Linked DNA regions of Homo sapiens: region 2 is linked to region 1. A link means that fine-mapping ties the variant in region 1 to the plasma level of a protein whose gene starts in the linked region. Region 1 holds a variant in brackets. A gene starts in the other region. All regions are shown on their reverse strands.

The links. PIP is the chance, under the fine-mapping model, that this variant and not a neighbour inherited with it causes the effect. Protein levels are from antibody-based Olink assays in UK Biobank. Linkage for the fine-mapping came from a reference panel and not from the study's own genotypes, which makes the PIPs less certain.
Region 2: it holds the start of AGR3, and the variant in region 1 is fine-mapped to the plasma level of the AGR3 protein (UK Biobank, PIP above 0.99).

Annotation. Positions count from the first base shown.
Region 1 is chr19:51,138,140-51,141,056 of GRCh38, reverse strand. LOC124904749 (a long non-coding RNA gene) reads left to right here and starts at 547. Exons shown (of 3, transcript XR_007067310.1): 1 at 547-633; 2 at 2,231-2,272. The variant C/A (reference allele first, on the strand shown) is at 1,530.
Region 2 is chr7:16,880,742-16,883,658 of GRCh38, reverse strand. AGR3 (anterior gradient 3, protein disulphide isomerase family member) reads left to right here and starts at 1,676. Exons shown (of 8, transcript NM_176813.5): 1 at 1,676-1,715.

The sequences.
Region 1 (2,917 bases):
TTGAAATGAAGAAAGAGATTTTATTAATTCATTCACCCTTACATTCCCCTTTCCTATTGGCCATGCCCCCGCTCCCTCCTGAAGGAGCCCCTAGCCTCACTTTAATGATAATAGTCTTCCTGCTGTTCTATGTAGTTTTATCATCGGCACATGCTGCCTTGAAAATTCTAACTTCACGTAGGTTTTCCTGAAGATGTTGTATACATAGAAAATCCCAGTCTGTTTTCTTCCATACAACTGCATTGATCTGCTCAGCCCACACTGTCCCCTAATTGTCCATAACCTAGAGATCATTTGGCTGTAACGATTGAGAGAGGAAGATGCTGGGTTTGGGCGTCCGAAGCCACTCCCCGCCCTCACCTCCAATCCCTGCATTTGCAGCTAGTATCTCATCCTGCAGACCAATCTGCCTCCTGGGCGCCTCCTCCTTGCCCAGCCACTCTCTCCCCATAAGGATATTTGCAGTATCTCAGTGGGCAGAAGTGTTACCGGATGGTGCCATGCAGTTCCAGGCTCTTGGTGTCTTAAACAAAGAATTGGATGAGACACACACAGACAGCAAAGCAAGAAGCAGCAGTTTATTAAGCACAGTATCACACTCTTGGAGAGGGAGAGCGAACTGATCTCTATGAGGTGAGATCAGCATTACTTTGGGTCTTTTTATGTTTGTTTGTTTGTTTTTTTGTTTTTCTTCGCTTCCCAAGGCTGCCAAATCTCTATCCAGTGTCTGCCTTTTTTCGGGGGGAAGGGGTGGTGGTGAGGTGGGGACGAAGTCACCCAAGCTTGAGTGCAGTGGCACAATCTTGGCTCACTGCAACCTCAACCTTTTGGGTTGAAGCGATTCTTCTGCCTCTGCCTCCCTGGTAGCTGGGACTACAGGCGCCCGCCACCATGCCTGGCTAATTTTTGTATTTTTAGTAGAGATGGGGTTTCACCAGGTTGGCCAGGCTGGTCCTGAATTCCTGACCTCAAGTGATCCGCCCACCTTGGCCTCCCAAAGTGCTGGGATTACAGGCGTGAGCCACCGCGCCTGGCCAGTGCCTGCCTTTTTGATGGTTAAGTATGTTGCTTAGTTACTTTGACCCATCCCATAATTTTAAGTACATGGATAATATGCAGTCCATATGCATGAACTTTAATGAGCTGATTATCATACAGGGTCATGTTAAGGATACTTTTTCTCTCTAATGCACATGCATAGCTCTGAAGAACTGCCCCTTACTGGTTTGGTCCAGATCCTGCTGGCCACGGGTGTCCTTGCTCACTTCTCTATCTTACTTTTTGTTTTGGCTGCTCAACTTCTGCCTCTTGCTTCTTGCTCACCCGTCCCCTCACCTTGCTTCTGCTCTCTGCTTTTACTTATTCTGCCCTTTATCCAACTTTTAATTCTCTTTGCTATGCTCCTGCCCCATTGGTCTATGCTCCTCCTGCCTCAGAAGGGCTAGACCATGGCCCATCTCTTTCCCACAGTCCCCAGTTTGCAATTAAAATCAGAAAAAAAAATGGGAAGGAGAGACTTAAGGAAGCCA[C/A]AGAATCTGTAGAAAGGAGGAACTTGTGAACCACATATGACCCAGGGGAGCTGACAAGCCCTCTACTCCCACTTCCACAGTTCGGAGAGGAAGACATCAAGGTCCACAGTGACAAGTGCTATGGTCTGAATATGTCACCTCAAAATTCATTTGTTGAAATTTGAATCCCCATGTGATAGTATTAGAAGGTATAATGATTTGGGAGGCGATTAGGCTATGAGGACTCTGGGATTAGTCTAATGGGATTAGTCCCCTCATCTGAGAGACCCAGGGGAATTTGCACAGCCCTTCCACCACATGAGAACATAAGGAAAAGGCACCATCTATGAGGAAGCAAACTGTCTCCAGACACCAAACCTGCTGGCACCTTGGTCTTGGACTTCTCAGCCTCCAGAACTGTGAGAAATGAATTTCTGTTGTTTATAAACTGGCCAGTTTATGGTATTTTGTTGTAGCAGCATGAATGGACAGAGATAGAAAGCGAATTGCCCAAATCACACAGGTCTCCTGGGCCCTGTCTCCTGCACCAATGTCTGCCCAGGAGCCACTTAATTAATCTTGTCTGCCCAGGACAGACTGGGCTGGGACAGGGGAAGCTGATGTTACTTGGAGAGTGAAAGAACTGTCAAGTCTCTCACATGAGATAAGGAAAGACATTTCATTCATTCATTCATTCATTCATTCATTCGTTCTGTATTCAGATTGTGAGCACCCGTGCTGTGCCTTGAGATTTCCAGCAAAGGGTAAGTGTTTGCCCAATCGCTCCCTCCCAGGAGGGGAAGTTGCAGCATCTCAGTGGTCAGAAGGGCTGAGCCATGGCTGACAGTGATGTCCTGCATCTGTCCCGCAGGGCTGGGTGTCCTCATCTGAGTTCTGTCTTGAGCAGGAGGGGCTCAGTCAGGCCTCTCAGCCCTGCTCCCCTGGGGGCCTCCACACCTGTAGAGCCAACACCGGCCTCAGATTAGCATCGGCCACTTCAATTCTAACTCAGGCGGGACAGGACAGCTCAGCCCCATCTGGAACTCGGGGGCCAATCCCTCGGCTTCCCTAGAAAAGAGCAGCCCTGCTCACCTGGAGTAGTAGCCCCAGGTGAGGCCACGGGTGAAGGAAAAACCAGTGCCCATGAGCGCCCCTTGATTAGGTGAGAACCAGGGGCTGGGAGCCCTCCTGATCTTCACTCGCACATCTGCACCCAGAGGGACTTCCTGGGAGTGGGGAGAAGAGGGTGAGGTTTTGTTCCTAGGTCTAGGCCCCTCTCACAGCCCAACACCTGACCAGGCTGCCTGCCCCAGCACCCGTCCAGCAGCTCCCTCTGCACAGAGAGGCTCAGGGAAATGTGCTGGGAGCCCAGTGGGTGCTGAGCCTCACAGGTGAGGTCGCCTTCACCT
Region 2 (2,917 bases), not on the chromosome of region 1:
ATAACAAATGAGAAAATCCATATGCCCATCTTTATAGAACAAAATCCAACAGTCCTGCTTTTAAGAGATGTAGTTTAAGAATAATGGTTACCTTCTTAACATGGTCAACTCAGCCAAATCCAGCACTACATCTAAAGTTAAAATACTGGAAGCACACCCGCTTTAACATCAGGAGCAAGACAATCATCACTCCCATTCTTGCACAGTATATTTGTTAATGTATTCAGAGCAATTAGACCCTTCCCCACAAAAAAAAGAAACAAAAAAAGGGTGGGAGAAGGGAGGGATGGAGGGATGGAGGGATGGAGGAAGAGAGGAAGGGAGGAAGAGAGGAAGGGAGGAAGAGAGGAAGGGAGGAAGAGAGGAAGGGAGGGAGGGAGAGAGGAAGAAAGGAAGCAAAGGAAGAAAGGAAGGAAAGAAGGAAGGAAGGAATTTATAAACAATACCCTGGATTAAGGTTCAACAAACATTTTCTGTAAACATTTACTAAAGATAGTAAATATTTTAGGTTTTGCAGATCATACAGTCCCTGTCACAAGCACAGTTGACCCTTAAACAACATAGATTTGAATTGTGTGGGTTCACTTAGAGAAGGATTTTTTTTTAATATATTCCTTCATATGGGCAAGTTCTGTATCCACAACCAAAAGTGGATCAAAAATACTGTGTTCACGGGATGCCAAACCTGCATATGCGGAGGACCAACTTTTCATATCTGTGGGTTACGCAGGGCCAGATATGGGACTTTGAGTGTGCACAGATTTTGGTATCCACTGTCCTGGACTGTACCGGACTTTGCTGTTGCAGTGCAAAAGTAGCCATAGACACTAGTAAGCAAATGCACATGGCTGCATGCCATCCGCCACATCTCTCTCTACTTAAGGACACTGAAATTGAATTTCATATAACTTTCACATGTCACAAAATATGATTCTTTTGGGTTTTTTTCCCCAACCGTTTAAAAATGTCAAAACCGTTCCTGTTTCCTGGGCTGTACAAAAAACAGGTATGCCAAATTTGATGACACACTGCCTTACGTTATTTTAACAGTAATTAAATAATTACTCTCAATTAATTCAACAGTATCTAACTATTAGATAAATTTAAACTTATCTAATGGCCTGTTTTTCTAATTTTTTGTGCAGTAAAGGTTTTATAGAAAAATTGTAAAGAATAATCAAATTATGAAAATGTTCAACTTTAAAACAGAATTTTTATTTCCTTCTCTCTCAAAAAAAAAAGGACCCAATCTCTTTAGCTGTTAATTATATTCCTGTAAACAGAGTAACCCTTAGGAATTTCTATTTGAACAATGGCATGCACACAGTTCTTAAATTCATTCCGTTTTCTTTCTTCCTTTTCTTTTTTTTTTTTGTGCTGAACTTCAGCCAAACATTAAACTACCTTGGGAAATAAAAGGTAAAAGAGAAAGAAGCACAAAGATGGTATTTGACCTTATTTTATGAGGACATTCAATCTTAATTTAGAGAAAAAGAATAGAGCTTTTTTAGTGTGAGAAGCATGAGAACTGGAAAGAAGTACAGAGTTTTTCAGACCAGCCTATTTTTCTAAGTTTGTTTTCCGGTAACTATGCTCTTGTTTCTATGCAGGTGAGGTTGTAGGTCAGGTGTGTGTGTGTGTGTCTATAAATCCACACCCATTTTTAACCAGAAACATCCAGAATACATTTCCAACAAGAGCACTGGCCAAGTCAGGTAAGCAAGCAAATTTTCCAGATTACTTAATCAGTGGTCAAGCTTTGCTATATTTAAATAATCACCTTTTGCTATTTAAAAGTGAAGCTTTCAGTAAAGGGTAGGAAAGTGAAATGAATTTTTATTTTTCTTCTTTTACTGAACTGGATTTCCTTTGCTGGTTTCATAGTTTTATCTCTATTTATATTAATGGTATTAGAATAAATTGACGTCAACCACAAAAACGACTCTTTGAAAAGTATTCTACAAGTAATGATAGCTCTTCTTTATATTCTTTTAAGTCTTGTTTTATTTTAAAATATAGGAACTTATAATATCAGTTACTTACGTTAAATTACTTTTGAAAAATAAAATACTAATGTCATAAAATGCTAATTGACCAATGTTTATACAATCTAATTGCTGACATATGGTTATGTGCCTCCCAAATGCATTTTAAGCTGCTGTAGGCCTGTAACCATGCCACATTTATCTGTGTTCCCCCAAGTAGCTTAACCTTGCAACTGATACTAAAGGACCCTCAGCAGTTTACACTATATTTTACCAAGGAAAGCGTTATTTATTCAAAATCTACAGTGTACAAGTTGTACTGCTTTGTCACAGAATATATTTAATATCTATTTTATAATTTATCAATGTAAAACCAGAAAACCAAGATTTTTATTTTTTAATTAGAAAGTATTTGACAATAATACATAAAGACTTGAAATTTTAAAGAAAAAATGGTTCCCGCTTAACTCTAAGCTTCGCAGCTTTAAAATAGCAAAAATGATGAGGTTATGCTTTTTCTTTTTTAAAATGCAGATTCCACCTGCTTGTCTCTGTAGCTAACATAGAAAAATCTTTCTAAAGATTCCTTCCAGATTGACTTTTCTTAACTCTTCTTTATATCCAAGATCCCTGGAAGAATTTTAATGACGTTTTGGACCCTATTCCCACGGAAAAGGAACAGAGGCAGATAAAATTTTGCACACAATTTCCAGGGGTTTTGAGCCTTCTGTAGCTCAGCCACAGGCCTTCTAGAAGCCTGCTGGATCCAGGTTAAGATCCTGTCCTAGGTGGTTGCTTTAGTTCCTCCACTGCAACTCCCAACCTGTCTAACTAAGGCTGCCTTCCCTGGGTTGAGCTTTGTGTTCCAGAGTCAACTGTCCCTGTCCTGTACTAAAATCCACCCTGTATTTGTTTCAGTCTTTAAAGTACAA